4 separate regions of the Homo sapiens genome follow, and regions 2, 3 and 4 are each linked to region 1. Evidence: fine-mapped expression QTL. A gene starts in region 1. Each other region holds a variant in brackets. All regions are shown on one strand. Distances are from middle to middle. Region 1 holds the start of SARDH (sarcosine dehydrogenase). Region 2 overlaps SARDH (sarcosine dehydrogenase). Region 3 overlaps SARDH (sarcosine dehydrogenase). Region 4 overlaps DBH (dopamine beta-hydroxylase).

Region 1 (8,059 bases):
GCTTCACCCTCAATGGTCCCCGTCCGTCCTTCTCCACTCCCTGGAATGCCCTCAGTCCTGGTGGCTCTGTCCAGGAAAGGGGCTTCTGCCCTCTGGACAGCTGCCTGGAGTTTCCAGCTCTGGCCCCAGCTTCACTCTCCAGGCCACACAAGCAGCATCTGCTCCCTCCTCCCACCACAGCTCTTCAGCGACTGGGAGGGCAAGCAGTGCCCCCAGCTCCGCCCACCTGCAAACTGGCCATGCACCCTTCCCCAGGGTCTCTTCCCCAGGCTGGTTGTTGTGAACCAAGAACTGTCCCAGCTAGCAATGGGCTGTGGCCCCTCGCTATGTCCTATCCTTCCCTGCCCCTACCTGGCCCCCGGTCCCTACCTGCCGTGTGCCAGGTGGTCCCGGAGGTCAGCCGCTCCCGCTCCAGCAGCACCGCCCCACTCATGCCCAGCTTGGCCAGGTGGTACAGGGTCTGGCAGCCCAAGCTGCCTCCACCAATGACCACCACGTTGGCCGTGCTGGGCAGGGGCCGGCTTGGGCCTTGGGCCACCACCGAGGTGCCCTGTCCCTCCTTCAGGGTCCGCTGATATGGCACACTCTTCTCGGCTGTGGGGCCAGCTGCGCTGGACAGGTTGCATGGCCCCATGCCCCGGGTAGGGCTCTGGCGAGGGTGGGCAGCAGCCACACGTAGGGCTCGGCTCAGTGAGGCCATGGGGGCTCCAGGCCTCAGCGAAACAGGGAGCTGGGGAGAGAATCAGAGCTGGGTGGGGTGCAGAGGGGACACGCTGGGGGCTGTGCTGAGTACCCAGGGAAATAAGGGCCCTATGGTGTTACCTCCCAGGGCCTTCCTCTTGCCACTTCCCCATGGCATTCATTCATTCACTCATTCATTCATTCATTCACTCATTCATTCATTCACTCATTCATTCATTCACTCATTCATTCACTCATTCATTCATTCATTCACTCATTCATTCACTCATTCATTCATTCATTCACTCATTCATTCATTCATTCATTCTGTGTGTATGTATTAAGGGCCTGGTATGCAGCAGGCTCTGTCAGTGCCCGGGAGCAACCTTGGTGAGGATAGGTCTCTGCCAGCCCACAGAAAAGACAGGGAGCGCCAAGCTCTGGGTAGAAGTGGGGGTCGGGGCCACAAGGGGAGGTAGAGAAGAGTGGGTGGCGTGGCTGGCAGAGATCCAAAGTGAGACCTGAGGAAAGTGGGCTGCCCCGTGAGGCCGGGCAGGGAGGATGGGGAGGGGACTGAGGACAGAGGACCAATAGCTGGAAAGGAGGGGCTCCGGTCTCAGGGACACTCACCCCCAGATCACAGACAGCGAGAGGCTGGGGCTGGGCGGGGGCCGTCCCGCCAGCCTTGAGAGCCCTTTCGGAGCTCAAGATGCTCCTGAGGGGCCAAGCAGCCCTGCTGCCCCACAGGTCTGTGCTGGGGCAGACCCCAGGTCCTGCGGGGTGGGGATGGGACCTGGGAGGCAGGAGTGCCCAGAGAAGGCGGTGGTAGTGGCACAGCAGGGCAGGGAGGGGGTTGTGTTGAGTGATGGAGACACTTGCGCTCCCAGACAGAGAGCCAGGAGGAGGGAGAGGCATCGTGGATGCTACAGCAGTGGCCGCAGGGTATCGGCAGGCAGCCTCGAGACGGGGCACCCAACCCCCAAGCCTGGAGCCAGCACCTCCTCCTGGGCAGGCCCCTCCCAAACCCAGACAAGAGGGGTTGCCCCCTCATCAGCCCCAAAGCTCGGTGGGACTAAGGCGGAAGCTGATGAAGGATGTGGTGTCCCGGCTCTGCTCCCTTGGGGCCACCTGGGATTGCAGAGTAGGGGCTCAGAAGCCGGGTTAACAGGCCTTCCTCCCCTCTGCTCCTTCCCAGCTGACCCACCCCGACTCCCTCCTCCTTCAGGAAACCCTCCCAGATCTGCCCAGCCAGAAAAATCCAATAACAATGAGAATGCAAGAGGGAGCCCTCCTTCTCAGGAGAGAAGGCGCTGATGAAGACGGATGTCTCCTTGGGTGCAGGCGAGGCAGGACAGGCAGTCAAAGGAGTCACCATGTCCTGGGGACGCAGCAACCGTGGTGACTGCAATCCACACAATCAGCCTCCACGTTTGCACTGTAACTGAGCTCGTGTTAACTGAGCTCGTTCAAGCAAAGCTGTCTGCAGTAGGGCCTTTCCCCTGGAGAGGGCATGTGCACATTGATTTTACCTGTCCTCAAACTGACCCTTTGCTCATTCTAATAGTAAAAAAACACACCCCTCGGTGGAGATTTTAAGATGCTAATGAGGCCGGGCTCTGTGGCTCATGCCTGTAATCCCAGCACTTGGGGAGGCCGAGGCAGGCGGATCACCTGAGGTCAGGAGTTTGAGACCAGCCTGACCAACATGGAGAAACCCCATCTCTACTAAAAATACATTAGCCGGGGGTGGTGGTGCATGCCTGTAATCCCAGCTACTCTGGAGGCTGAGACAGGAGACTTGCTTAAACCCGGGAGGTGGAGGCTGCAGTAAGCCGAGATTGTGCCATTGCACTCCAGCCTGGGCAACAAGAGTGAAACTCCGTCTCAAAAAAAAAAAAAAAAAGATGCGAAAGAGACATGTGACGTATGAACAAACATGTACAGCTACCGCATGTGCACCCAGAGGACCAGCCATCACATGCTGCCTAGTAACCTCTTCCTCTCTTTCCACCCACTTATGAATAATTGTGGAAGACTCCCTGAAAGGGGGTTTCTCCAACAATCATCAATGCTGCCTCACACTCAGGAGCAGCCCCCCGCCTGGAATCCTCTCTCTCCCAGGGTGCATCCGCACCTAACTTTCAAAATGTTCTTTTTCTTTTGCAATAAATTGCTCTATGTTGCAGCTCTTTTGCTGTGTGTCTCATGTTTAAATTCTGTTTTGTTGTTGTTGTTGTTGTTTGTTTGTTTGTTTGTTTTGAGAAAGAGTCCCACTCTGTCTTCCAGGCTGGAGTGCAGTGGCATGATCTTGGCTCACTGCAACCTCTGCCTCCTGGGTTCAAGCGATTCTCCCACCTCAGCCTCTCGAGTAGCTGGGATTATAGGTGCATGCCACCATGCCTGGCTAATTTTTGTATCTTTAGTAGAGACAGGGTTTCACCATGTTGGCCAGGCTGGTCTCGAACTCCTGACCTCAGGTGATCCGCCTGCCTCGGCCTCCCAAAGTGCTGGGATTACAGGCATGAGCCACTGTGCCCAGCCTAAATTCTTTAAACTAAGAAGTTAAGAACGGAGGTCTCACAACAGCCCTCAATGGAAGGGTGGGGTGGTGTCCTGCCCAGTGTGGACCTCCACTGCCCTTTTCTGGGATCTGCAGGAAAAGTGAAAGGGATGTGGCTGTGATCCAAGATGTGAAGTGCTGTGCCACCTACGTCAGTATGAATGACTGATATAATTATCTAAGAAAGTCAGCATCCTTTTTCAAGAGTGGACCATAGCTATGCACGTTCGTTCACTCTCATTGAACACCTATAGACACATGATAATGTCTCTACTTCACAGCGGGGGAGTCTGACACACGGAGAGGCTCCCTGAGGTGACCAGGGTCATAGGGCCTCCATGTGGCAGTGCCAGGGACTCTCTCCTGCCCCCTCTTCTGACCATCCCAGGGGGACTCAGGACCCACTGCCACACTCTGTCCCACCTGAACTGTGGGCACTGCCCAAGCCCTGACGAAGCCCAGAACCCTGTCCTAGGCACAGTGGGGGATGTGAGGGGGATCCCAGCTCTCAGGCTGGTCAGGGCTGCCCCCCATCTCCTGCCCCAGTGCCCCATCCCAAGGGAGGGAGCAGGGAGTCTGATTGCAGCGGCGTAGGGGAGTGAGGAGGTGTTGGAGCTTGTCCTCAGCCTCTCAGCCCTCAGTGTGTCAGCCCGCCTGGCTCCTGCCTGCAGAGGTGGCCCCGGACAAGGAGGCATGCCTCCTGCATGTGTCTGTACATACCTTCAGTCCTTGAAGGTCCACAGTCTTCCAGGAGCCCCCAAAAGTGGTGCCCCACCAGGGGAAAGCCAGCTTGAGTGGCACCGAGGAAGGCCCTCCAAGGCTGAACACCCCCACCCCACCACCCACCACCCACCACGGTGCCGCATGGCACAGCACACCTGGTCAGCTGTGGGCAAAAGCCTCCCTCCTCCTTCCGACTGTGCCCAAAAAGCGACAGCTGCTGGCGCCGGAGGCTGCCACGTGCCCCTTCACCACCTGCCTGGTCAGTCAGGGCTCTTCTGACTGTCAGACTGGGGGCTGGCAGCGGCCCCAGCGGGGACAGCCCAGAGCCCCTCCTGCCTGCCACCTCCCTGGAAACAGCTGCCTCCACATTAACCCACTCTCTTGCCCCCTCCAACTCTGTCTCGTACCTGAGTCAGCTTCCCAGGAGTGAGGGCTGAGGACAGCCCTGGGCTTGGGATCAGACAGATGGGTGGGGGTTTTGTCACAGGACTGGGGCCTCGAGCAACAACTTAACCTCACTGCAAAGCAGAGGACCCAGGAACGCCCTCCTCCTCCCAGGCTCAGGGGGTGGTGGGGGTCAAGCGAGGAGAGCGCCTGGCACCTTCGCCTGGTGAGGGTAGGCAGACTTGTGGGGAGGAGCGGCAGGGGGCGGGGAGGCAGCTGCCCATATGGTGAACCCTGGTCCTGCTCATGCAGCTGGATGGTCCCTGCAGCCAGAGGCAGAGGGAGATCCCAGCCAGATCTGACCAGGCCCAGCCCCGCCCACATAGGGGAGGCCCCAGCCTCGTCCCTCCCTGGGGGTGTACCTCCAAGTACCTCTTGTCAGCTGCAGTGCCCCTCGGCCCTAAGAGTGCTTGGCCCAGCAGAGGTGCCTTCACCTTCTTGCTTCCCAAGCAGTGGCCTGGCCGGAACTCCAGGCCTCCCCCGCCCCCCACCCTCGCTGCCAGCCCCATGTCTCCGCCCAGGATCTGGGCGGAGCGTACCGCCCACCACTGCGGCTTCTAGGCCAGCTTAGTTGGGGCTTCTAGGCCAGCCCTGTGGGCAGCTCCCTCTGAGGGCGGCAGAGCAGGGTTGTGAACCCCATGCCCCATTACCCGTAGGCGACCTGGCAGTCACCCTTCCGCTCCAACCCTCATTTCCTCGTCTCTGAAACAGGCGCCTCAGGGTTGCTGCAGTAGACCCAGGCACCACCTGCCTGCTGGAGCCGCCCGAGCTCCCCGCGCCCAGAAGGAGCTATGCACAGGCAGGGTGGGCAGGAAAGGTGGGGTCAGCAGCAGCTTGGGCCAGGGGCCCGTCCACTGCAGGGAGGCTCCTTTGGTGAGGTCATCTCAGCACATGCCCCAGTTTGCTCACCCCCAGGGACAGGATGCTCACTGCCTTCAGAGGCGAGTGAGAAGGCCTGGGTCAGCTTCCCAGGGACAGGGTCTCCTGGTCTGTCTGCGTCCTGCTTTCCCGAGCTCCCAGACCCCTCTGGTGTTTGGGGAGATGCCCCCAAGCCACTGGCTACTGCACAGCACGTAGCCCCCAGGGCAGGGATTCCAGCCTCCATTGACTGTTGGGGACAGCAGTGCCCAGGGAGGGGGCCACACAGCAAGCTGGTGGAGGAGGCAGACCGGATGCTGCAGCCTGACTCTGGGCTGGGGCAAGTTACCCCTTCCCAGACAGAAGTAGACACCCAGAGGAGGGGTGTGGAGGAAACCCAGAAAGAATACACCTCTGGATGCCCAAAGAATCAGAACAGGTGCTGATGGAAAGTCACATCTCCTCCTCGCGCTGGATCAAAGACGGGGCATTTCAATGGCAGTCTGTTAATATTGTAATGATGCCAGCTGCCAATACCGGAAGCGATCGTATAGTAAACTGCTGTAATTAATACCAATCAAATCATTGTGTTCTTATTCACACCGAGGATGTCCGACTGTCTTGTTGCCAGCTTGTCTATCCTCTACATTTACTGAATGCCCAATGTGTACAAAGCACTGCTGGGAAACCTATAGTGACATCTAAGACCCAGCCCCTGCCCTCGAGGGGCTCAGGGTCCACGAAGCAGACAGATCCAGGGAGAGACACGACACCACAAGGCTGGCTTCCTTCCAGCAGGGAATCCAGGAGGACCTCTTAGAGGAGGGGGCCTGGGCTCTGGGCCTGACCACGTGCTGACACCATTCTCAGTCCCTGCCTCAAAGGCAAAGGGCCCACTGGCTTAGGCCCCTGGCTGCCCAGTGGAAAGCTGGCCCCGCCAGTTTGAGGCTTACCTGGGGTGGTGTGGGGGTCCTGGGGCAGAGGACCTCCTCTTTGGATGGTGTGGCTTGCCCAGTGGCCTGAGCTAGGGCTGTGCTCACCCAACAGGGTGACGAATGAGCTCAAGAGGGCAAGGAAGGAGTGTGGCCCAAGTTCTCCCAGGAGTCCTGGACGTGCAAGTGCATGGGAGAAAAACGCAGCAGTCACCACAGCTCCAGGGCAGTGGCCGGGTAGCCCACACTTCTCCTGTCCCTGCACTCAAAGACAAGTTGCAACTGTTGCAAAACTGTTACAAGCCAAGAGGGCAGCACAATGAACCTGCACTTTGGACAAGGGGTGGTGGCTGGGGGCCGGTCCCGGCCTGTTAGCTGTCTGTTAGTATCGTAGGATTTTCATCCGGCAGGGCCTGTTAGCACCCAGCTCCGGTCTGGGAGAGGTGGAAAGGCTGTCTCCCCCCAGGGACTAGTAGTCACAGCTCTGGAGAGGCCAGGCTCCGGACAAGGAGGCCAAGACAGGGTCCTGTACGATCTCGGGCTGGTCTTATCACCTCTCCCTTTGCTGAGACTTAGTTTTCCCATCTTGGAACAGGAGGCTGGAAGCCCTGCCATGTCAGTTTCACAGAAGCCTTGTAAATTTCCCTGAGTAAATTTCCTTCAGTCCTGCTCTAGATCACACCAACAGAGGGGCTGCCACCTCAAAGAAGTCACCCCACCAGGGATAAAATCTACTTGATCACGGTGCATGATCTTTTTAATGTGCTGTTGAATTTGGTTTGCTAATTTTTTTTTTTTTTAGACGGAGTCTTGCTCTGTCGCCCATGCTGGAGTGCGGTGGCACGATCTCGGCTCACTGCAACCTCCGCCTTCCCGGTTCAAGCGATTCTCCTCCCTCAGCCTCCCAAGTAGCTGGGATTACAGGCACGCACCACCGTGCCCAGCTAATTTTTTGTATTTTTAGTAGAGACGGGGTTTGACCATGAATGGCCAAGCTGGTTTCGAACTCCTGACCTTAAGTGATCCCCCCACCTCGTCCTCCCAAAGCGTTAGGATTACAGGTGTGAGCCACCGCGCCCAGCTGGTTTGCTAATATTTTGAGAGGATTGTTGCATCTATGTTCATCAAGGATATCGGTCTATAATTTTCTTTCTTGTAATGTTATCTGGCTTTGGTATCAGGGTAATGCTGGTCTCGTAAAATGAGTATGACTCTATGTTTAGTGCACTCTGAAGAAAACTGTGGTGCAAATCAAAGTCACAGTTGACTCTACATTCAGGAGTGAGGGGCTGCCTCCAGGTTCACTGCCCTCCCCAGCCTCCCCGCCACCGCTCCAGTGGGGACTGTGGTAGACTTGTTCCTCTGCCCTCATGGCCTGGACATACCTGAGCCAACCCCAAGACTCTTCCTCTGGCTCAGGCTGGCCCTCTCTGCAGGCCCCCACCAGCCCTTGGCCCCGACTTGCTGGCCAGGCTTCCAGGACAGAGAGAGGTGCCTGCAGGCTGCCCTCTGACGGGGCAGAAGTCCAGGGAGGAAGAAGCGGAGGCGTTGGGGGAGGAGGCTCCTCCACCGAGCTCTGCGTGCAGCCCTGTGAAAGAGGACATGAGCAACAGCATCCCAACCCAAACTATAAGAGCCAACATCACCACTGACCAGGAGGAAGGCAGTGCCCCAGTCACCTCTGAGGGCCTCCTGGGAGTCAGGCAGCGTGCTAAAGGCTTCACACGTGTCATCTCAAATGAGACAGCAACAACTGCTACCCATCGTGGAGATGGGAAAACTGAGGGAGAACACAGCCAACAGGTGCCAGACCCAGGTGATTCATGGGCCAGGGAAATTTCCAGAACAATTTTCAAGGGCT
Region 2 (8,059 bases), 33 kb before region 1:
CCCCTGCACTCCAGCCTGGGGCAACAGAGCAAGACCCCATCTCAAAAAATAAATAAATAAATAAAAATTTGAAAAATTAAAAAAAAAAGGAATGAAGTGCTGACACACACACTACGACATGAATGTGCCTTGAGAATATCACGCTAAGTGGAAGAAGCTGATCACAAAAGCACACATCTTTTATGATTCTACTTACGTGAAACGTCCAAACTAGATATATCTACAGAGAGAGAAAGTAGAGTAGGGTTGCCCTGGGCTGGGGATAGGGTGAGGTGTGGGGTATCTTTTGCTGGGAGATGAAAACATTCTAAAACTAGATCATGGTGATGGTTGTACAATCCCGTGAACTCACTAAAAAACACTGAGTTGTACCTTTTAAATGAATAAATCATATAGTATGCGAATTAGATCTCAATAAAGCTGTTTTCAAAGCACACACACACACACGCACGCGCACACACACACACACATAAACAACATCACTCCCTATTTCCTTCCCCAGGTTTACAAATGCCTGGGTGAGGTTTTGAGAATCTTCTATTCTTCACTGTATGTTCTACTTGGTCTTCCCCTTCAGGGCTCAACATGCCCCCCACTGCTGAGCAGAGGTGCCCACCTCATTGTTGTTACAGGAAAAAAATAATCATGACAGCAACAACCACAGCTTCCTGAACAGCTGCCGTGTGTCGGGAAGCTGTTTCATCTCCTCCCAAACTCCCTTTGAGTTTCCACAAGGGAACTCATATTACCCCTCACATACTCAGGGAGGCCAGGGATGGTGGCACAGCCAGGCAGTGGCAGAGTTATGGTCCAGCCAGGCTGTGCAGGGGTGCACTGACCCTGACAGCTGGTCAGGCAGATCCCTGCCCAGCTCCACATTCAGTGATGCCTCATTGGCGGACTGGATTGAAATCAGCCATGGAGAAAGCATTTACATCAGGGAAATTGGCCGGTGCTACAGAGCCAGCTTCCTCCCCTCTGCCCCAGAGAGCTGGTTGTTAAGCTGTTACCAGCACACCACAGGGACCATCTGCCTCCTGAGCTCTCCATGGCTTCTCCAGCCCCACCAGGCATCACTGTCCTTCAGGACAGGGCTCCCCTTTGTCGGTTTCTGCTGTACCTTTGCTGATGCCACCGGGGCTGCCAACCAAAACCCTCAGCAGCCTCCCGCGCTGGGCTCCTCTAGCAGGCCGGGGAAGCTGCCAGCGCCAAGAACAAGCACGTGTTTCGTGCTTTAGGACGGCTTCAGGCGCGTTTGCGGAGGCCGGATGAAGCCACAAAGCCAAGTTGGCATCTCCCCCGAGCTCCCACATCCTCGAGGGCCAGAGTCCCACAGGCTTTAGAAGCTGTGGGTGCGGAGGTGCCAGACGGAGCCCCGAGCACTCCCTGGGAGGCAGCGACAAGGGACTCGGGCACTGAGCCGGCCCTGCTGCTGCGGCGCTTCATGACACACACGCCTCCTCCTTCCTGCAGGAGCCCCCTCTTCCGACGCCTTGAACAGATGTTCCACCACTAGAGCAAGCTTTCGGGGAGATGGTGGAAATGAACGGTTTATTCCCTTCAGAACTGGCTACAGAACCCAGTGCGGGACCCAGTGGGGACCTTGCTCAAAGACCATGAAGAGTCTCAAGGCACTGACAGCACAGCATGAACCCAAGCGGGGCCCTTCAAGGCAACGGACGACCGCAGGGTCAGACCCTACCCAAGCCGGACTTGCGACTGGCCTAGAGGCCCCAGGAAGGAACCCCCTCGTGGATGCCTCCTAAGCTGTCCCTGGGCTCTGAGACTCTGGGCTCAGGCCTTGGCTCTGCTCCTATGTCAGATTCGCAGTGAGGTGTCACGCGTCTCCCTGGGGTGGCACGGGGACAACAGCTGTGCTCCACCTGTGAGCACTTTACAACACGACTGGGCAGGCCAGGGCAGACGCTGGCCTCGCTCCTTCCCGGACAGCTGCGGGGGAGAACGCCCCTGTGTGGTGCAGGCTGCTGCGGGGGAGAAGACCCCCAAGACTCCTCACCTCCACCCCCTGCACGTGGGAGCCAGGTCCCCAGGCAGGGGCGACGGGCTGCCAGCTGCCCCGTGTGAGCAGCCTCGCCTGCCCACTTTGGAGCCAGAGGAACAGCAAGCAGGCTCCAGGCCACGGCCCTCCCGGCTCTGGTTCCCTCTGCTTGTCCCTTGGAGGGGCCCATACGGGGCCTGATGCCCAGGAGCCTGCGGCCCCCTTGTCCTGGATCTACTCTGCGCTGGCTTCCAGGAGGGAGGACCCCCTTCCCCCACCACGTCTCATGCCAGCCTCGGCGCAGCTCCGGAGAGCGGGAGGCGGAGGCTCAGAGCGGTGCAGCCCCACCGGGCCCCAGCCCGTTGCCTCCGCCCCCACCTCACCCCATCCCCAGCAGCACCACTTCCGCTCAGGCCTGGCTGCTGGCAAAATCTCGGCACAGAGGGAGGAGGGGGAGAGGAAAACGCATGATTCCTCCTCAAAATGGAGTCAGCCGAAAAAAGCGTGAATGCAGAGCCCGAAGAGACTCCTGGGGGAGGGGAGCCCCTGCAGGGCCAGCCGAGGGCCGGCGCAATGGCTTATCTGAGGGACAGGCAGAAGGACGGACCCCCACGGTGGACCCCAGCTACGCACCGTGTCGTGGTGGGGCGGGAAGGCGAAGGTGTACTCGTCTGCCAGCAGCCTGCGGTAGGCGTAGTCCTCGTGCGCGCGGCTCCCGTAAGCCCCGTAGTAGTCGTACTCGAGGACCTGGGAAGAAAAGACGTGGTCCTCAGCCTGCCTCTTTGGCCCCTCCCCGCTTCCCTCCCCAGAGCGGGGTCCCGCTGAGGCTGTGATGGGGTCAGGCCTGGCCCTGCCCTCGGAGAGCCCTGCACTGAGTGCCCGTGTGTTGTGGACGCGGGCAGGGGGCCCCCATGAGGTCCAGGCAAAACAGAGGCACAAAGGAGGCCGCAGGGTTGCCTGGTGGGTCTGAGAGCCCAGCCAGGGCCCAGGAGGCTGGAGGAGGAGCTGGATGCACCCAAGGTGGGGAACGACAGGGAGAGGTGGTTACCCAGGACCTCAGCCAGGGCTGCTCCCTGGAGCCACGGCAATCCCAGGCCCAGCTCCTGCTCTGGGCCAGCCCCTGCGGGAAGCGTCTTACACTCCTACCAGGTGTGCCCCTTTCTACAGATGAGGAAAGTGAGGCGCAGAGAAGTTATATCTCGCCCAAGGGCACAGACAAGTCCTGGACCTGGCAGTGGCACGAAGCCAGGCAGGTGCGTGGGCTCCAGAGTCCAGCTTTTCTGCCACTGCCTTGGCCTCCCTGGGATCTGCCCCCATCAGACACCCCACAGCCCCACAGCCCCATGCCCCTCCCTGGCCGCTGCTCCTGCAGACAACCCCCCACCCCGCCACCTGCCCTCCTAACTGCCGACACGGCACAGCTGTGAATGCAGGTGTGGGCAATTCTTAACCTCCCAGGGCTGCCAGCCCCGTCCGCCCAAGCCTCACCTCCTCTTCACACACAAGTGGGAGCCAGTGTGAGGTTGTAAGGGAGTCAGGCTTTGCTGGCATCTCTGCATGGAGTACCCCCCTCCCCAGCAGGGACATCCCACCCACTGCAGCCCTGCCAAGGTGTCCTGGACACCCAGGCTGGCTCCCGGGTGGGGGTGCAAAATCCGCCCATCTTGGGACCTGGGGTGTGTTCCTGACTCTCCTCTCCTCGCCCAGGGACAGGGGAGAGGGGCTTCCAGGGCCAGATCTGACTGGAACACAGTGGGTTGCACTTCAAGACAGGGTCTGCCCAGACCCCTCCTCCCCGCAGGGTTCATGAGGACGGCATGTCCCTAGGGGCCAGCAGGAGAAGAGACGATGACCTGCAAGGCTCTGACCCCAGAGCCGTGGCCCCGTTAGCCAGCTCTGGCTCTCATCTCCCCTCCCGATGCCCTGGAGCTCTGGAGCCTGGCCTGGGCTGTGGGTTGCCATGGGGATGGAAGGTGGGTGCACCAGAGGGGACTGGTGAGACGCAGCCCCGGGAAGGGGATTTCGATTTCTGTAAATCTGGATCAAATGCTACCCCTCAGCTGGCCTTAAGGCCTCGCGTCCCCTGCTCCCGAGGGTCTGGGTCCCAGGTTTCACAGCAGGACTGCCTTTGTTCCTCTCACTGAGGACCCAGGTCCCTGGGAGTCCCCAGAGGACGCCCAGAGTCCAGGCCACTGTGAAACCTCCACTGGGAAACTGAGCACCCTGGGTGCATCAACCTGCCCAGTGCCTGCCCTCCTACGGACATAAACCAACAGTCGGAGTGGCCAAAAATAGATGCACAGAATTAGGAGACGCTCCATTCCTCCTGCAACCTGGGGGAGTCTTCTTGCTGTCTCCCCACCGCAGGACACCCCTTCTGCTCTGCCTACAGCCCTTCCCACTTAGGCCATGGAAGGCCTGGCCACAGCGGACGGGTAGTGGGGAGGACGAGGAGTGGGAATTGCGTGAACGGCACAAAGAATGCACTGAGCCTTGGGGGCAGGTCGGCAGGGCTCGGCTTCCCGTGTGCAGAATAACTGATCACGACAGTGGAACCACCTGGGGAGGCGGGGCACACGGAGGGGCAAGGACGGGGCAC[G/A]TGGAGGGGCAAGGGGGTTGTCAGGGCAGGGCCTCCCAGCAGCACAGCCCAGCAGGCACTACTCACCGGAGCTGGGCCTCGGGGATGAAACCATCCCGGTCGCTCCCAGCCATGCCGCTCCTGGAACACGCAGCCTTGTCCAAGGAGTTCCTGAGCAGGAGTGGGGAACAGGCATCTGTCACGCATGGCCTGATACCCCTGCGCAGGGCAGAGAGCCACATCCGCCACTTTACACCCAAGGGTGCGGAGAGCAAGGAGGCCCTGACTCTTGGAACCAGGCCTCCAGCCCAGTGTTTGCAGCTACCCTCACTGCCTCACCCTGAGAACCCCTATGTGTAGAATTACCACCTGCCCCATCTGCCCTCACCCTGAGAACCCCCATCTATAGAATTACCACCTGCCCCATCTGCCCTCACCCTGAGAACCCCCATCTATAGAATTACCACCTGCCCCATCTGCCCTCACCCTGAGAACCCCCATCTATAGAATTAATTACCACCTGCCCCATCTGCCCTCACCCTGAGAACCCCCATCTATAGAATTAATTACCACCTGCCCCATCTGCCCTCACCCTGAGAACCCCCATCTATAGAATTACCACCTGCCCTGATCTGCTCTTGCCCCAGGAATCCCATCTATAGACTTACCGCCTGCCCCATCTGCCCTCACCCTGAGAACCCCATCTGTAGAATTATCACCTTCCCCTATCTGCCCTCATCCTGAGAACCCCCAGCTACAGAATAGCACCTGCCCCATCTGCCCTGGCCCCGATAACCATCATCTGTAGAATTACCACCTGCCCTGATCTGCCTTGGCCCTGAGAACCCCCATCTGTAGAATTACCATCTGCTATGGACGGAATCACATCCCCACATAAATTCGTATGTCAAAGCCCTGACCCTGACGTGACTCTATTTGGAGATGGGATCTTTAGGTTAAATGAGGTCATCAGGGTGGGTCCTAATCCCATACGGCTGGAGCCCTTATAGGAGGAGGAAGCGACGCCAGGGCCCTCTCCCCGCTGCATGAGGACAGTGAGAAGGTGGCCGACTACAAGCCAGGAGAGCCCTCTCCAGGAACCCATCGTCTGACACCTTGATCTTGGACCTCCCAGTCTCCAGAAATGTGGGGAAAAAAAAGTTCTGCTGAAACCTCTCCACTTGTGGCCTTTTGCTGTGGCTGCCCTAGCAGAAAGATGCACCATACGACCCAGCAATTCCACTCCCAAGTATGCACAAGAGAACTGAGAGCGGGGTTGTAAACAAATTCCGTTCACGCATGTTCACTGAGCTCTATGCGCAACCACTAACCAGGGGAGAGAACCCCCGTGGCCCTCAGCTGATGAGTGGATCAACAAAGCATGGTCTGCATACACCATGGAATATTATTCAGCCATAAAAAGCAACGAAATTTGGACACATTTTATCACAGGATGAACCTTGAAAACATGCTACAGGAATGAAGCCAGACACAAAAGGTCATGTATTGGATGATTCCAGCATATGAAGTGACCTGAACAGGCAAATCCATAGAGACCGAAACAGCTTAGTGGTTGCCAAGGCTGGTGGGAGGAGATGAGGAAGGGCTGTTTACTGGGGATGGTGTTTCCCTGTGGGGTGATGAGAATGTTCTGGAACTGGGTAATGGGAACGGTTGCACAGCACTGCAAAGGCACTTAATGCCACTGAATTGTACACTTTAGAGCAGTTAAAATAGCTCATTTTAAGATCTGCCTACTTAATCACAACAACGAATGTAATGAACACACTAGAGAAACAGAGTGGGAGGTTTCTTTAAAAATAAATTTGGTTTGGGAAAAAAAAGAAAACCCACTCTCGGGTTTGGAAGGGCCCTACCCAGGGGCCACCCCCTCTGACTGGAACGAGGCCCCGAGCGCAGGGCTGAGAGGGCCTCGGGGGCAGCATCTGGTTCCAGATGGCCCGCTGAGGGTCTGTCCCAACAGCACTTGCCCTCCCCTCCACCCCCGAGGCCCCAAGAAGGAGGAGGCACGCCCAAGGCCACAGCATTCATCAATGACATGGACATGTCCTCCCTGCCTGCCTGGGATTCTGAGGGGATGGCAATCGAGGGCACAAAATCCACCCACCTCTCAGTGAACCATGGGGACATCCCATGGGCCACCTTTCTAAGGAGGCAAACTGTTCATCTCAAGAGCCCATTAAAAGAGGGCAGGCTCCCCTCTTTATAAAAGAAAGAAAGAGAACAAACTTAAGCGGCTGTCAAGTGTCGCAAGAAGGCTGCTAACTAGGAAGGGAAGTCGAGGCGTGGGTGAACCAAGATTTCCCTGGGGGGCAGGGGCGTGCTTCAGCCCTTGCCAAGTTTCTTCGGTAGAGCTGCTCAGTTCTGAGGAATGCGTCTGAGCTGACTGCGAGAGGAGCAAACCCTGCATTCACCCAGGGAGGCTTCTGAACTGTCAGGACTGGCAAGGGCGTGATTACTGATTACAGGCCCGGGGGCATGCTAGGGAGACCCCAGGGCCATGTGTGGCCTGAGATCATAGCTGGTCCACCAAGCCAGGCCAAAGGGCCAGGGCAGTCTGGGAGCCAGCCCTGTGACCACTCTGGGCCTCTCCCCAGGAGGTACAGCTAATACCAGGATCTCTCTTGGGGCCAGACACTGGAATCTCAGGTGAGGGAGGCCCCTTCTTCAGTTTAAACGCCACCTGCTCCCTGAGCCTCCCTCTTGCCTCCCCGCCCATCCATCTGTTCAACAAACATCCCCCGAGCACCTCAATGCTCAGGAACCAGAGTGCCTAGGACATAGCCCCTGTTCCCCAGAAAGCAAAGCGTCCAGCACGAGATGGCCAGGGAGAGGGGGAAGGAATGGAGACGGGGCTGGGAGCGCAGAGAAGGAGCTCCTTTGTCTTTGGGGGACCAGGGGAGGGCACAGGGGCAGACCTGAGAAAGGGGCACCTGACAGTGGGTTTCACTGAATGGGTGAGTCGAAGCTCACCAGGGCAGAAGAGCCTCCGCAGCAGGCTCTACAGGCAGGAGCCCCTCTCCAATGTACGCCGTGTTCTGGCTGCTCTCCCAATACGTGGCTGCATACACCCACCAAGACCCCGCCCCCAGGACCCCTGCCCTGTTGGCGCTGCTGCCAGCAGTTGGCAGGGGGCGGTTCCTGGGTGTGCGTTCCTGCTCCTCCACTACAACAGAAGCCCCCGGGTGGGAGGGAGCCATTTCCACTTTATTCCCTAATGTTCTTGGCCCTGAGCACTGTGCCCAACACATGGGGGTGCCGGGTTACTACCTGGGGAATGACAGACACCTTGTCACCGCACCTGACCTGCGGTTGGGGTACACCTTGCATTTCTGTCACTCCGCTGCCCTGAGGACGTCCCAGACCCTCGCTGCCAGTCCCCAGCAGGAGCTGTAGGGGCGTTACCTCGTGCAGCGGGTCTCTCCTCATGTTGCGCCCGGCCAGCGGCTCATCGTGGGGGA
Region 3 (8,059 bases), 55 kb before region 1:
CTTTCTGATGGCTCCCATGTCACATAAAGCTCTGATTAAATCTATCTGGTGTGCTTTTCTCTTGTGAACCAGTCTTTTGTTACAGGGCTGTCTCCCATGCCCCTGATAATGGGTGAGGGGAGGGCTCACACCTTTTCTTTCCTTACAAGGGCAAGATGAGAACCTGGAACCGATTGCCCCTGAAGTCTCCAAGGCCCCCAGCTCAGAGCCCTCTGCACCCAGTTCTGCCTGAGGTCACTTGCCCCAGACAGAAGCAGCAAACCCGGGTGGGGGTCGAAGCTTCCCACCACCCACTCCACAAACACCCTCGCTCCAACTTCCCCTTGGGGCCCAGGCCCTTCACACTATCGTGGCAACAGCTCGACCCGTGACAGGGAACACGGTGCCCCAGCCTGCGGCCACCAGTCTCTCTGTGCTGCATCAGGGAACCTGCCCATGATATCGGGTATCTGTCTCAGGCCTCAGCAAATCTGCACGGGTTCTGTAAAGCGAGTGTTTAGGCAGTGGCTGGAACTCAGCTGGTCTCTGACTGGCATGTCATAGTTATCTAACGTGTGTGGGTGCAGGACTGCTCCATCCTGAGCTAATCAAATCCTAACAGCGCCGCGACTAGGACTTCTCGCTGTCAGGAAAAGAGATTCAATTTCCTTTTGAGCTGAAATTAATTTTCAGAGAAAATCACTTGATCACCGTGCCCCACGGAGTGCTCCCAGCCCAGCATGCTGCTTCGCGGCGGGGCCCGTCCTCGGCAGGGGCCCTGGGAACACCGTGTCTGGCCGAGCGGAGCTCTGGGAGACACGCCGGGAGAGCACTGACCCACGGGGAATCTTGCTGGCCTCGAGGCAAGATATTTGGGGAGCAAGGACAGCTGGTCTGCTGGCTGCTGAGCGGACAATAACTTCTCCCCACCCTGCTTCCTCCTCTAGCAGTCCAGGGATCGTGGCAGCCTGGGTCAGATCCCAGCCTCTCGGAGAACAATCACTGCACAACAGCAGCAGTGCTCAGCTGGGAATCGCGCCCAATTCGTCTGGTGGTGAGGAGGGTCTTTGGGCAGCGGCAGGCGCCCGCTCTCGCACCCGGGGCCCGGGTCTGCAGCTCTGGCCCTTGTCCTCATCGGCCCTCACAACTGCTTTCAACCCAGAGGTTCCGCTGACTGCGCAGGCACACGCATTCCTCGCCTGCATCTGGTTGGCTGGAACCCAACTGATCGCCTATAAATACCTGGCTCAGGCCCACGCTCCAGCCCAGCGTTTCTTCACGTTGAGGGATATGTCATCAACACATTTTTAAGCCAGCACAAGATATTATTTAGGAGAATATGAAATTCTCCCTGGATTCAGAGAATCCAGAGTGTCTGGACAGACTTATGGAAAGGCCCGGAAAGAATTTTAGACATTGTGCTAGACTCCGTGCTACAGGTGGGGACACTGAGGCCCAGAGAGGCGACCCGCAGAAGGACCGGGCAGGATGGGAAGCCAGGCTTCTGGCCTGAGCTCCACCGAGCCTTGGGTAACATGGATGCTTTGGTCCCAAACCCCCCAGTGTCTGTGGCTGACTCAACTCCCATCTCCCACCTGCCTGTGAGGCCCCCTACAGGGGGAGCTGGCCGTGGCCAGTGGCTGTATCCCCACCCGTCTTGCTGGCCAGGAAATGGGGAGGGCACTGTGTCCCAGGCTGGGGCCACCTGGGAGCGCGTGGCCCTGGCCACTTTGAGGGACAGCCTCCCAGGTCAGCAAAAACTGTAACATTGACACTAAGGGCCCAGAACCTCTGCTCTCCTGGCCCACACCTCCCCAGGGCCCTCAAGAGGAGGCAGAGGTCACTGAGGACAGGATTCCTGGCCGCTCCGTCCTCCACACGCTCCTCGAGTCCCCGGCCTCATCTCATGGGATCTGGACCCACCGGCCACCCAGCAACTTCAAGCTCCTGAGGGCCACAGTCGTCCTCCAGACACACGCAGACCTGGCCGCCAGGCCCACACTGGCCACTCCAGACACACGCAGACCTGGCCGCCAGGCCCACACTGGCCACTCCAGAGAGCTGCCGGGAGGACAAGGAGGGAGAGGGACGAGAAGCCAGTGGGGCTGCGCTCAGTGCTGGGCATCAGGGTCTCTAGGTGAAGATGGTTAGCCCCAGCTCACCCCCAGTCTGTCCCCGATGGACCCCACGGACTCCAAGAACATGAGCATGGGAATGACCCCACAGAGCCGGCCACTCAGCCCAGGTGACAGTAAATCTGTGCGCTAAGGTCGTCTGTCTTCCTAAGGAGTGGGGCCCTGGGCCACTGGCTGTCGGCAGAGACGAGCTCCTGGCTGGGGCTGTGTGGGGATGGAAGCCTGCCCTCAGCACCGGGGACATCTGCCGCCCTGGTCCTGCCACGGGGGCTGGGAGGTGTCAGGATGGGGCCCACAGGGATGGGGAGAATGCTGGTGGGTAGTGGGTAGAGCAGGGGCAGCTGATGTGGGCTCCCGGCTCGTCCACAGGCCCCTGGGGTCAGTCCCAGGGCAGAGCCCCCCAACACGGGCCACACTTTTTTTCTAGCCAAGAGGTCGAGACACTCGGGGCCTTGCCCCACCCTGTCTGGTTCTTGCCAACACTCAGTTCTCTGTGGCCATCTTTGCGGGACTCTCGGTTCCATGAGAACCCGTTGGCCTGGGGTCACCCCTCACCCTGCCTAGGACCTCTTTCCAGTACAGGCTGGGCTGTGGCTGCAGGTCCCTTCCTGGGCCCCAACCTCACTCGGGGTCTGAGCCCATCGAGGGAAGGAGCCACATCTTCCATCCTGGGACCCCAATCCAGCACCCAGCAGGCTCCCAGGCAGCATGTCCAGAGTTCACTCCAGAGTCTCTCGAGCGCTAGTGAGGGAGAGGACGAGAAGCACAGCACTGGGAACGGATCGTTAAGTTTAGTAAAACACTAGTGCTTGACTGAGAGTCCCAGTGGCCCTACGTGAGCTGACGGTGCTGGGAGGTACACCATGGATAACTGCCACGGCCGGTGCGCGGCGTGTTTCCCAGCAGCTGGGCCTCCTTATGCGTGTAGCACCTCCCCGCCGCCTATTTCCTGTGTCCCCACGATCGCGCACGCCAGTTGACGCTCATGTCCCACCTCCCCTGTGTTTCCCCTCCCCCCCATCCCACACGCAGGGACCCCAGCCTAGAAAGCATTGTGCTTCTCTCCCACTCCGCCTGAGACCTAGGGTAGCACTGGGCAAGCGAGGGGCGCAGAAATACGGAAGGACAGAGAAGAACACACCACAGAGTGACCCGGGACCATGAACCGCACATACCTCCGACCTGGTGGGCCCAGCTCTACCCTCTCTCAGACCAACAGTCAGCATCTACTGGGAGGACGGTGTTCAAGGGAAGTTCCTCCCGGGGCCACTTCCAAAGCAGAGAGGTGGACCCGGTGTGAAACACATGAGCAGGGCACTGGAGACGCAGCTGAGGGCGTTCCAAGTGGTTCTCGGGGAACGTTCAAAGGAACAGGGGAACAGTCACGACATTCGGAGAATAAAGCAGTGTGTACAGACTGCATGGGATGCCCTGATTACATTTTAAAATCCACAGATAGTCACAGATGACGGAAAGAAGATGGCGGGCAACACACTCAACTGTCAACCCTGGTTTCTCTGGGATGGGATTAGAGGGGTTTTCGCTAACTCATTGGCAGGCTATGAATGTCCCCAACGGTCCTCTGAGATGCCGCTGACCACCATGTCCCAGCCAGATGAGCTTCGTGCCGCAGCTCACGAGACCTGCCCACAGACCCAGCATCCTTGTTCTGAGGGGGCAAGGGTCGTGCCCAAAGTGGGCTTGGTAGAAGTGAGGTCTGCACTCAGCCCCTGTGCTGAAACCCACGCGCAGTGATGGTTGGAAACTGCTAGAAGCGAGGTCTGCACTCAGCCCCTGTGCTGAAACCCATGCGCAGTGATGGTTGGAAACTGCTAGAAGCGAGGTCTGCACTCAGCCCCTGTGCTGAAACCCACGCGCAGTGATGGTTGGAAACTGCTAGAAGCGAGGTCTGCACTCAGCCCCTGTGCTGAAACCCACGCGCAGTGATGGTTGGAAACTGCTAGAAGCGAGGTCTGCACTCAGCCCCTGTGCTGAAACCCATGCGCAGTGATGGTTGGAAACCGAGCAATGAGCAGTATTTTATGCAGCCGTGATGTGCTTTTTACAACACCAGTGATTTTACACCAATGAGCAGGAGACTGTGGGGAGAGGCGGCCCCTGCACCCCCTGCACCCCCCACGCTGTGTTTGGCCTGGCCTGTTCCTCTGGGGGATGTCATCCCGGAAGCAGAGCCTTTGGGTCAGCTCAGCAAGCACCTGGCCTGGCCTGGCTCCTAGGCCACACAGGTAGAGGCTGACCCAGGCAGCCACTGCCTAGGCTTGGGGAGGCTGCCAGGGCCAGGAAAGGGCCAGCCCCAGGAGAGGGGAGGCAGCTGGAGCCGCCTGTCTGAGAACAAGTCCCAGCAGCTTGCTGGAGTGGCCGTGCGGGTGGGGGCAAGGCTGCTGGGCCTCAAATGGGAGGGGACGTGTTCCCACCTGGTCGTCTCCCCGTCCTGTAGCCAAACCAGACAGAAGCAGCACCTATGCCAAGCCTCAGCAAGGTGGGAGAACCCGCAGCCCCCCTCCCCTTCTGCAAACCAGAACCCAGCTGCAGACAAAGCTGGATGCTGCGTGGACCCCGGCCTGCTGGAGCTGGAGTCGGGCCATCTGAAGGCCGTGTGGCCTGGATCCAGCTGTGCTGCTCTCTCTGAGTGCCCACCCTCTCTGGTCCCAGCAGGCAGCTTTGCACCACAGAGGCAGGAAGCAAGCTAGACACAGCCGGCCCTGCTTCCTGCCCCTGTGCAGCCTCTGGAGAGGGGAGGTGAGAGCAGAGCCGC[T/C]GGGATCTCCCTAGTTTCTGGCCGCCTCCTCCCTGACAGTCATCGCCAGATTGTTTATCTGCTAACAGAACCCAGATTTGTCCCCCAGGACCTCCAGTCCCTCTGCAGGCCAGGACCTCGCTCCTCCCCAACCTTCCTTAGCATTTCCCCACCCAAACCCCAGACGAACATACAGGAAGGAGAGACAGGGAGCTGCCTCCAAACGCGGCCGTGCACCCGCCCACCCCCTCCTGAAGGCCACATCCGTGTCACTGACACATATCGGGGGCTTTCTGGGTTTCTTTAGCCGGGCGGCCCTGAGCAGCCTGGCCCATCCAGCCTCTCTGAGCTCCATCTGGGTAACATCCGTCATGCAGGGCGACATCTCCTCCAGCATGAGCGCTGGAGGGCTCTGGAGGCCCGGCCCCCGCTGCCACTACATGGCTTACAGCCCTGCAAACAAGCAGGGTGGTCATGCACTGAGGTTCTCAATGGGCGATCCTGCCCCCAGCGGACCCTTGGCCATGTCTGAACACACTTGTGGCTGTCACGACGGTGGGTGCCACTGGCACCTAGTGGGCGGCAGCCAGGGAGGCGGCCACACACCTGTGTCACACAGGAGGGCCCTCACAGCAGAGAGGATCTCCTCCAAACGTCAGTAGTGCTGAGGTTGGGAGACCCTGTAACAGAGCCGCCCGCACTATGGCGAGGATTACATGGGAAAGTGTGCTGTGATGTTCTCGGAACAGTGTCTGGCACACAGGAAGCCCTCGGCAAACAGGGGCTGCTGTGTTTACCATCCTCATCTCAGCCTCGAGAAGTCAAAGCAGATGCCAAGATGCCTGTTTTCCAACAAGGAAACAAAGCCCAGAAGAGGGTCGTGCTGGCCCAGAACTAGAATCTGGGCCCCGATCCTGGTCTCTGAGGGAGCCTCCTGCCTGGGGCCAGGTCCCATGGAGTGCTGGCTCCGGACACTACCACCATCTCAGAAGGGACGGGCTCTGGCCCCCAGGATACAGGCTTTCTAGAGTTGGTGGGGGACATGTGGGGTGCTGTTTGGGGACTGGCTGTGCTCCCACCCCAGCAGCCCCTCCTCCCACGCCCACAATGGCAGCTGGGAGGCTGCCACACGGAGCTCTCCGGAGCCAGCTACTGCTCAGCAGAGCTCGGCCCTCCCGTTTCCAGGAGGTCACTTGGCCTCGGGAGGGCTGCCCCGCGCCTTTCAGGAGGGGATACAATAGGTGGCGATGCAGGCAGTGAGGCCAAGGCCACCTTCCCTGGGACTGAGTCCCTGGCATGCACCAGGCACCGAGGAGGGATGGAAGACGCTGTGACTTTGATCCACATGACCTCTCCAAGCTCCCAACAGCCTGTAGGAGGGCCGCCTGGTCCCACTGTCCCCCCTTCACAGTTGGGGACCGAGGCCCAGGGAGGCAAAGGAACCTGCCCGAGAGCCCCCAGCCCCCAGATCCCCCGGCGCACCCCTCACACCATGCTGCCACCCACGACCCAGAGGACGTGGCCAGCTGGAACCTACCAGGTGCCCTGCGGCTCTCAGTAGCTTGTGGGTGGAGAACGGGAAGGCCTCGTTGCTCAGGTCTGCGTCCAGCACCTCCTGCAAAATGGCTCGGCTGCAGGCAAGAGCAAAGTCGCTCAGTCAGCAAGTGCTCACGGGTGGGGCCTGGGCAGGAAAGGCCCCGGGGACCTGCCATGAGTGGGATAAGTCCCTGTCCTCATGAGACAGATGACAATAAACATGGATTAATAAAAATACACCAAGACAGATGTACGTTCCAAATATACATAAGACAGCCACCTTCCAACGGGGTAACGCTAGGGCTAGCAGGACCCCTGGGGGAGGCCAGACTTGGAGATAGCTCTAACGGGACTCGCGATTCTTAGATGGGGAAGTGAGGCCAGAGTGGTTATCTAACCATAGAATGCCCTTGAAGCCCACAGGCCAGGAGGAACAGAGCATCTGGACCAGGTCCACAATCCACAATCCACATCCCCAGGCCTCTCCAGGTTTCCAACTCTTCAGAGGCCAGAGGGGCCTCAGCTGCTGCTTTGGTAGCCACGGCCCGAGAGAGGAGCTGGCTATGGTGGCCTCAGTGCTGTACAGAAGAGTAGAGTAACTTGCCCAAGGCAGAGCCGGATTGGAGCAGATTCCGGCCTCCTCCCAGCCCACTGCAGAAAGTGCTCTTCCCAGACACCACCCCGCTCTGTTCCCTGACCTAACCCTCCAACTGGGCACCTCGGCCCCAAAGTCCTCTGCCTGACATGGGTGTGAGACGCTCAGGCTGCAGACTTGGAGGAGGTAGAGAGCTGGGCTTAGCACCCAGCAGGTGCTAAGAGCCATTTCAACCTCCTAGGGGACTGTCACCTACCGAGGGCAGGGCTGCACCTGAGTGCCACAGTGCTATGAGGGCCCGGGAATGTTCCTGAGCACTGGACACTCAGTCCATACTGGACAGTTTGCACAGACTTGCTGGGTCCACCCCTGCTTTTAAGCTCTGCGAGGGTGGGGATTCGCTCCCCACTTTCCCTGCTCCGTGGTACCCAGCACCACATCTACTCTCACACTTGCGCAAGTACCGGAGACCTCACTGGAGCCAACACCCATGGTCTCCCAGGAAGCCCTCACCTCCTGGGCACCGTGCCCACCTCCAGGCCTAGCCCTCTTGTGCCCCTTCGCATTCTCACCCCTTCCCCTGTCACCACTTAACCCTTTGTCATCCTTCAGCTCTTGGCTCAGCTGTCACCTCCCCCAGGAAGCCCTCCCTGACTCCCTAGGTCTTGGGCAGGTACTCGTTGTCCAAGATCCCACAGTCTCCTGCCAGGGTGTCTCTCACATTGGTTGTACCCACCCCCAATGCATCCACCCCCAGGAGCTCCGTGCCAACAGCATCCCCCTATCCCAATGTGCCTGGCACAGAGCAGGCTCTCAGTAAATAGAACTGACTGTGAACACCCTGGCTTGGCACAGCAGGGTGAGGCCCCCATTGCTAGGAGACGCCCCCCCACTTCTGTCCCTCTGGGATCCCAGCAGGTGTTGAGGCTGCAGGGTGGGCTGTCCAGAAGTACTGCTGACCCTAATCCCAATCGTCACAGTGCTGGGAGCCGCCACCCACGTCAGCCTGAGGTGCTCAGCTGTGGTACAGTTGGCCAAGACCCTTATGTAACCACTCAG
Region 4 (8,059 bases), 74 kb before region 1:
AGCGCTGAACAGACCGGGGTGGAGTCAGGGCTGTGCTTTCCGCGTGGTTCTGCCACTTAGGGAGTGTGCCTTGGGCGGGCCATTTCACATTCCTGACCCTCACTTTTCTCATCTGTAAAACCAGGCTGATGCCGTGCGGGCTAATGAGCCAATAAAGCTCACACTTGGGCTGGCACCCACTGGAGGTGGGTATGTTTGCACTCCGGGCCGTCGCTCCAGGAGAGAGAAGCTTGCTCCTGAGCCTCCTCCCTGTGCCAGGCGTGGTACCAAGTGCTTCCCCCTGAGCGTCCTGAAGCTGCCTCAGCTGGCCTGGGTGGGTCTCCCCTTCCTGCCCTCTGAGCTGCCTCTCAGGGACAAGTTCAGCTCTTTGATGGTTTCTGGAGACAGTAACAGATGCACTTGTGTTCAGCCACTTCAGCAAAACGCTGCCCAGCCTCATGGGGAGAGAGGGAGATGGATGGGCCTCGGAGTCCCCTCGCATCAGCTAAGCGGCTGCTGCTTCTGCAAGGCACTTCACTTCATCACAGAAGGGAAGTCACGAGCCCAGGAGCTCTGCCTCACGTTGTATAAATCACAGCTTCTTGTGGTCCATAAGTCACGGCGCTAGCGCTGTGAAATGCCAGGCCCCAGCCTGGAGAGCCACTCCGGCCCTCTGTCATCTTTACAGCCTAGGTGACAGTAGACACGGAGCAGGCCCAAGAAGCCTCTTCCCGCGATCACACCCAATTGCCAGCCCAGAGAAGGGTCCCAGGGTCCTGCCCAAACACCTGGGGGGCACTTGTAGCCTGCCGATCTCGGGCAGGGAAACTGAGACTCCCAGATAAGTACCTCACCTGGGGCCCAAGAGCGGCAGTGATTGGGAATCCTAGCCAGCTCTGGAACCTGCCACAGCGACAACCCCACCCCCACCTCACCCCCCACTCACACTCTTGCTCTCAGGCTGGTTATCCTCTTCCTCTTGCAGAGACAGCAGCCGTGTCCCCCCTACCCCGCTCCAGCAGTACCCGCACCTCCTACACCCAGATAAGCGTAACCCCGTGGTTGCTGAGAGTTGCCACTTGCCCCACACTGAGGCTATGCACAGCCGTGGCAATCTCGTGAAGCCATGTAGTTTCTGTTTCCATTGATGGAGGAGGAAACTGAGGCTCAGAGACCTAAAGTTAGGTGCCAAGGTCACCCAGAGTAAGCCGGGGAGCTCGAAGTGTCCCCAGGTCTGACTCCAGTGTCTGAATGCTCAACCTCTGCTTACTTAGGAAACAGGAATTTCCCCAGGACCCTTGTGGGGGATTTTATCTAAAATAAGTTCCTTATTTAGAGGCTTAGGGGAAGTGCTTTGTTACCTGAAAATGACCTACATGCCCCAAGCCAAAGGGACTCTGGGCTCGCCCACCTTCCGAATGATTGGGGTGTGAGTCCAGCAGCCCAGGTTGCTATTCCTGCCCCTGCTGTGTGACCCTGAGTTAGTTACTTTCCTTCCCTAGGCTTGGGTCTCCCTATCTGCCCACCGAGGAGAGGGTTCCCCAGCCTCCCAGGGGGCAGGGACTGCTAGGGTGGCACAACCCCCCATCTGTGAGGTGCTCAGAGCCCTGGGGTGAGGAATGCTCATGCCCATCAGTGTTGAGAGAAGTGGGGCGACCCCAGGCTCCAGCCAGCATAGGGGTGCCTGCCCGACTGGGTCCCAGAGCACACCAGGGCTGTGCTTTCTGGTGGCTGCTAGCCTCATGTGGCTACTTACGATTAATTTTAAATTAATTAAAATGATACAAGGTCGGGTGCTGTGGCTCATGCCTGTAATCCCAGCACTTTGGGAGGCTGAGATGCGAGGATCACTTGAGCCCAGGAGTTCAAGACCAGCCTGGGCAACATAGTGAAATCCTGTCTCTACAAAAAATACAATAATTAGGGCTGGGCGCGGTGGCTCACGCCTGTAATCCCAGCATTTTGGGAGACTGAGGCGGGCGGATCACCTGAGGTCGGTAGTTCGAGACCAGCCTGGCCAATATGGTGAAACCCCGTCTCTACTAAAAATACAAAAATTAGCCAGGCTGTGGTGGTGCGCGTTTGTAATCCTAGCTATTTGGGAGGCTGAGGTGGGAGAATTGCTTGACCTGGGAGGTGGAGGTTGTAGTGAGCTGAGATCACACCACTGTACTCCAGCTTGGGCAACAGAGTAAAACCCTGTCTCAAAAAAAAAACAACAACAACAAAAAAAAACAAAATGGAACCTTTCTGCGTCCCATTCATACCCCCAACTTTTCACATGGCCCAAGGCTGTCTCACTGCACACTGTGGTATAGCGCTCTGCCGGTGACGATGTAGGCACTTTCTTTTTTTTGTTGTTTTTGAGACAGAGTTTCCCTCTTGTTGCCCAGGCTGGAGTGCAATGGCATAATCTCGGCTCACCACAACCTCCGCTTCCTGGGTTCAAGCAATTCTCCCACCTCAGCCTCCCAAGTATCTGGGATTACAGGCGTGTGCCACCACGCCCAGCTAATTTTGTGTTTTTAGTAGAGATGAGACTTCACCATATTGGTCAGGCTGGTCTCAAACTCCCAACCTCAGGTGATCCGCCCCCCTCGGCCTCCCAAAGTGCTGGGATTACAGGCGTCAGTCACTGCGCCCGGCCAGTGTAGGCACTTTCAAAACAGTTTGCTCAGAATTCCTGAGAGGCAGTACTCAGCCACAGTGAGCGTCATGGTATCAATATTTCCAGAAAAAAAATTTAAAAATAGCTACGAAACGGTGTTTTTAAAGTTGAGGTCTGGAAGACCTGGCTCGGGGTCTGGGAAGGTGGGTCTTTTGTGATGTGGTCCCCGGGCGGTGCACTTGGGAGCCATGGCGGGGCCAGGACCTCTGGCAGCGCAGGGATGGAGCCCGCAGGTGATGAGCTTGGGAGGTGAGTTGTGGAGGCTGCGCTCACATCAATGCCCAGTGCCCTCCCCGAGGGGCCAGGTTCTCTCTCCACAGGGGCGGGGGAAGCACACAGGGGACAGGGAGGGGTGCTGGGTTCTCTCTCCTCGGGACAGGGAGCGCAGCCAGGTTCTCTCTCCTCGGGACAGGGTGGTGCCGTTGCGTGCATTCCCCAGCTGCAGCCACGAGAAACAATTTGGAGCGGAACCCGGGCTCTGACCTCCCCTCATCCTCAGCCTTCCCCCAGGGATGGGCCGTGAGATGAATGTGGTCACCGGCCCAATCCAGGGGTCTATGGCCAAACCGCAGACCCGGAGGAAGCAGGCCAGGCCATCTGGGGAGCCGGCTCCCCTCCTCTCCTCCCCTGGCTCCCACAAAGCTGTCTCATCCAGAAGCCAGGCCCGCCTGTGAGCAAGGGGAGGCTGCAGGTGTTCCTTCAGCCTGAAGCGTGTGAAAGCCAACAGCCCCCACCCTGGTCTCCAGCCGCAGCCCCCTCCCCAGACTCAGGGGGCCAAACCCACTTTTCACAGCCATCTGTAACCCAAACGTCTGCCCACAGCTTTGTTCGAGCTCAGTCCACAGTGGGCCGCGTGGCCTGGGAGCGTCCAGTGGCAGCTGGGGCCTGCCAGGACTGCTGCCCCCAGATCGCTGTTTGCTGTGTGTGTGGCTCTGTGGGGCCCCGGCTCCACGATACCCTCAAGCATCTGCCTCCCGCTCTTCCCAGATTGCAGGGCATGCCTGGCAAGACTGCGCAGTGCCGCTCTGACGGGCCTGATCTGAACCTGGGCTCGGGGGGACAAGGGAGGGGACTGAGCACGTGGGATGGACAGAGATGCACACCCCTCCCAGGCAGGAGAGGCAGAGCTGCTTCTGACACACAGGCAGTTATCAGGGGGAAGAGAAGGTGGGCAGAGGAGCCACCCCATCTCAAGGCAGCGTGCAGGGCAGAGCCTAAGAGAGGGTCCTCCTGCAAGGGCCAGACAAGGAGGAGGGCATGGGCAGGAACCGCGTCCAAATCAACAGCAAAGACAAAGGTCACCTAGAAAGGGGGACTCCACCAGACTCTTACCCAGCAGCACGTCCCTCCTGCCTGGGCCTGGTGAGCGAGGGGCTCAAGGGGAAACTGAGGCAGGAGCTGGCACTTCTGTGTGGGTGAGGAGGGCACCAATCTGAGGCCCCGCCCGCTCCCTGCTTCGGCTCCTCTGTGTTCCCGGGCTGCCGACTCTCAGGAGGCTTTGCCACCTGAAGAACAGGGAGGTCGAGCAAGGTAAGAAGAGCTTTCCAGCTCCTGTTCCGACCTGAGAGCCGAGAGGCACCATCCTGAAGAATGGCCTTGGTCCCAGGCCTCCATGTGCGCTGTGGCAGACAATGCCAGTCGATCACCTCTCTTTCCTGACCCAGACACAGCCTCATGCTCTTCAGCCAAGTGCCCCAGGGAAGCCCGCCACCGATCAGTCAAGCCTGGAGTAAAAGATGAAGCCTATTTGCTTCGCTGTTTTCACGTGGGGCTTATCAAGTATTTACTAAGCACCTT[C/T]TAGAAGCTTGGAAAGGGCTACAAGCCATGGTCCCTGAGCCCAAGACACTTACAGGTTTGCTTTCTGGGAGGATTGGGGTGGATTAGAGACTGCCTTCCAGTCAGTGACCACAGGATGGGCCATCTTGGTCTCTGTCCGTATCTGGTTTGGGGGTTTTCGCAGGACTAGGCCTAGGCTAAGGACAGGGAGGGCACAAGTTCTGGCTGGGTCCAGGGTCCTGGGACCCAGGGCCATTTGGGACCTGTGAGAATGGATGGACAGCATGGGATGGGGCATGTGGTCTGAGCCCTCAGTAGATTCCCTTCACCCTCTTGTTGTTGGGGTCGAAGGGCGACTTCAGGTGAGCCTGGGCACCATAGGTCACCCCCATTCTCTCCAGGGCATAGTCCCCGCTCTTCACAAAGTCCAGCGAGACCTAGGAGCAGAGGTGGGGATGAGGATCACTCTCTGTTGGTAGGTACAGGGCTCACGTCTGCCTGCTTCTCTGGAGGAGGGGGTCTTGGTCTTGCTACCTGCCCTGTGGGCAAACTCATCCCTGTGCCAGGGACTCCTTTCTGAACCCAGGCATTGCCCCAGAGCAGGTGCAGTTCGTGTCCATGTGATCTTGAGTTGGACATGGGCATCTGGGGTCCGGCAAAGCCAAGGTCTGGCAGCCAATATGACTTCCACCGGACAACACACCTCCCACCCCAGCAATTCCAGATGCCTGGGAAACAGCAGCAACACGGTGGCTTCCCCGGACCCGGGCAAGCACAGCGGCCAGAGCAGCGCCGAGGCTGGGGGCCAATCCGGCTCGAATCCCTCGGGGCAGGGGCGGCTGGAACAGCCTTCTAGACAGCTTGGCCTCTGCATGCTCCCCATCCCACACCCTGGCTCGGGCTCCCCAGCAAGCGCTCGGGAGCCAGTCAGCCCCAGGTGCAGGTGCTCTTAGGCAGGAGGAGGGTGTCACCTCCAGCCTGGCACAGCTGGTGACGCCTGGCACTTTTGCTGCAGCTGCTATGAGGAGGGCAGGCTAGGCCACTCAGGGAAGCTGTTCTTCCTTTACAGCAATTAAACCCAAGGTCAGGGCCACAGGAGGGAGTCTCGGGCTCCGCTCTGGGAGTCAGAGGGCTCCTTCTTGTTCCTAGCAGCTCAGGACTGGATGAAAAAAATAAAAAACAAACCAAGCTTTTTCTGCGACAGGAGCTTTAGGAGTGGTGCTTCTGAGCCATGTGTGCACCTGCAGGGCTGAGAGCTCTGAGCTGCCCCCCGCAGGCAGGCAGCATGGAGAGCTGGTGGCCTTCAGATGTCCACGGGCATGCACAACTCAAAGCGGGCATCTGGCCTTGCTAACAGATACCTACGAGGCAGAAACGCCTTCCCCATCTCGGAGCCTTTCCCATCAATGAGCAGGTTTCCCTATCTTAGGCAGAAACCTCCGTTACCCCACTTGGGTGCTAGAAAATGTTTAACAACCAGCTCTGGGGTGAGGTGGGTGTGACTGTAGCATTTGCCCATTTCCATGGTGCAAATGCTCTGGACAGCCCTGATGGAGGGGGCAGGAGACGTGCACCGGCCGCTCTGGGTGCATCGACTGGTTCCCCGGCTGCCTGTCTGGATGCCGTTTAACCTCGGAACCTCGGCTTCCCTGGTCACGTTGGTTATGGACCCATCCCTGACTCCGGAGAAAGGCGAGCATTACTGTTCTTTGAAGAAATGGCAAAGGAGCCTCCACTCCCCAGCCCACCCTGGCATGGAGCCCATAAACTCCGGTTTGGCTGGGCCCCAGGGCTGTGGCCCCCAGGACCATGGCCCCAGGGCTGTGTCAGGAGGCCCTGCCCACCGTGGGAGCCATGCCATCACAATCCCCACATATTAAGACTCACTCTGTGCAGTGGCCTGTATGACAGCCCTGCATGGTAGGTGAGTGTCCACATTTTATAAATGAGGAAACTGAGGCTCCAAGAGAGGATCCTTATCCAAGGTCACAAAGCAAGTAAAAGGCAGATCCAAAGGCTAGTGGCATCAAGTGTGTCCCCAGCCTCCCAGCTCCACCGCCGGACTCAGCCCCATGGGCTGCCACTTCCCCACAGCTCCACAGGACCATGGTCTTGCCCGAGGCCTGGCGGTGTCCCCTCCCCATTGGGCCTGCGAGCTGGGCCTGCGCATGTTCTGCAGCTCTTGCTAAGGCTGCTCCGTCTCCAGCCTACCCCTCCTCATGGCTTCTCCCAAGTGCTCGCTCCCTCCCCAATTCCCTCTACGTGTCCATCAGGGGCTCAGGCTGGAAGGCTCTGGAGCCAGGCCAGCACCTCCCGGCCTCACTTAGGGCTTAGGCCAAACGTCAGATCGGCTCCCATGGAGAGACACGACCCTCCTCACCGGCACCTCTACTTGCAGTGCCAGAAAGATGGGAAAAGGAGGTGGAGGTAGAGACCACCCCTTCCCCTTCTGGGGAGGCTGCCCACCCCCTGCCCCACCACCCCTGGCCACCCAGAGCTGTCCTGGGACTTGCTCCTGGGGGCAGTGCCTGCTCTTTCCAGCCTGTTCCTGCCTCCTGCAGCCAGGGGTCAGGGTCACCTGGAGGGGGTGGGGTTGCCTGGGGTCAGGGGTGTCGGGGGTGAGGAAAGAGAGGATAGGAACATGGGTCTCTGAGTCTCTAGTCGGTCACCCTGGGGGCCACCCCTGCACCCCAGGCAAAGGGTGGGCTGTGGGTGGCCTGAGGTTTGGGTCTCTGGTGTGAGGAGCTGGAAGGTATCAGCCTGGCTGGCTGGCACCTCCTTCTAACCAAAAAAAGCCTGGAATCACCAAAGTCGGATTCTTCCAGAAAGAAAACAGAGAGCAGCTTTGGCTCTGCCCAGGCACAGCTGGGGAGTCCTCCACCTGCTGAGGCCTCTTCCTCCCCCTTCTCCTTCTCCCTCCCTCCTCCCTCTCCCTCCTCCTCCTCCTTCCTCTCTCCCCTTTTTCCTTCCCCCTCCTTCTCCTCCTTCCTTCCTCCCCCTCTTCCCTCCTCCCTCCTTTCTCTTCCCTCCTCCTCTTCTGGACCACACCCGTGCCTCCTCCCTATGCCCGGCACACTCAGGGTGCAGTGCAGGGAGCTGGTTTGGAGCTGGTGAGGGATCGGCATCTGCCTTAGCAGGGCCAGAGAAGGGGACTCACCGGCCCACCGCTGGGGTCATGGATGTAACCGTAGGCGATGGTCTTGTCGATGGCGAACCCAAAGTCAGCCCTCCGGACATGGCCCACCACTTGGCCGTTCCTCCAGATGGCCTCCAGGCCAAACATGGGTACTTTGCTGGAAGAAGCAGTAGAGAAAGCTGGGGCCCCAGAAACCGCAGGGTGGGGACGCGTCCACAGCGGCCTGGAGGAGAATGGGGGGCTGCATGATGCACACCCAACCGTGGCTCCAGGCAGATAGGGCTGGCCTACTAGGACTACGCTGGTCCCCAGAGCCAGCCCAGCACCTGGCCTGGACAGCAGGGCTCGGGCTTCGAGTGAGTAAAAGGGATGAATAGAAAACATCAAAACCAGGAGTGGACTTTGCTGTTTCCAGAAGCGAGCCCCGTATATTTGGGAGGGCCCCTGCTTCCGATTTCCTTCCATTGTTGTTCAACTCTGGTTTTTTTTTTTTTTTTTTT

Evidence for each region.
Region 2: its variant is fine-mapped to the expression of SARDH in whole blood (INTERVAL, PIP above 0.99).
Region 3: its variant is fine-mapped to the expression of SARDH in blood mononuclear cells (TOPMed, PIP 0.95).
Region 4: its variant is fine-mapped to the expression of SARDH in caudate (GTEx, PIP 0.93).

Annotation. Positions count from the first base shown.
Region 1 is chr9:133,733,474-133,741,532 of GRCh38, forward strand. It overlaps SARDH (sarcosine dehydrogenase), which reads right to left and starts at 4,879. Exons shown (of 21, transcript NM_001134707.2): 1 at 4,781-4,879; 2 at 370-730. The coding sequence starts at 700.
Region 2 is chr9:133,700,284-133,708,342 of GRCh38, forward strand. It overlaps SARDH (sarcosine dehydrogenase), which reads right to left. Exons shown (of 21, transcript NM_001134707.2): 11 at 8,004-8,059; 12 at 4,665-4,748; 13 at 2,633-2,746. Among named protein-coding and RNA genes, the nearest start is that of SARDH, 34 kb to the right of the region's middle. The variant G/A (reference allele first, on the strand shown) is at 4,599.
Region 3 is chr9:133,678,787-133,686,845 of GRCh38, forward strand. SARDH (sarcosine dehydrogenase) reads right to left here. Exons shown (of 21, transcript NM_001134707.2): 17 at 6,407-6,500. Among named protein-coding and RNA genes, the nearest start is that of DBH-AS1, 25 kb to the left of the region's middle. RefSeq lists an enhancer at 6,622-7,122. The variant T/C (reference allele first, on the strand shown) is at 4,891.
Region 4 is chr9:133,659,155-133,667,213 of GRCh38, forward strand. DBH (dopamine beta-hydroxylase) reads left to right here. Exons shown (of 12, transcript NM_000787.4): 12 at 1-175. SARDH (sarcosine dehydrogenase) reads right to left here. Exons shown (of 21, transcript NM_001134707.2): 20 at 7,581-7,716; 21 at 4,406-4,860. The coding sequence ends at 4,735. Among named protein-coding and RNA genes, the nearest start is that of DBH-AS1, 5.8 kb to the left of the region's middle. The variant C/T (reference allele first, on the strand shown) is at 4,445.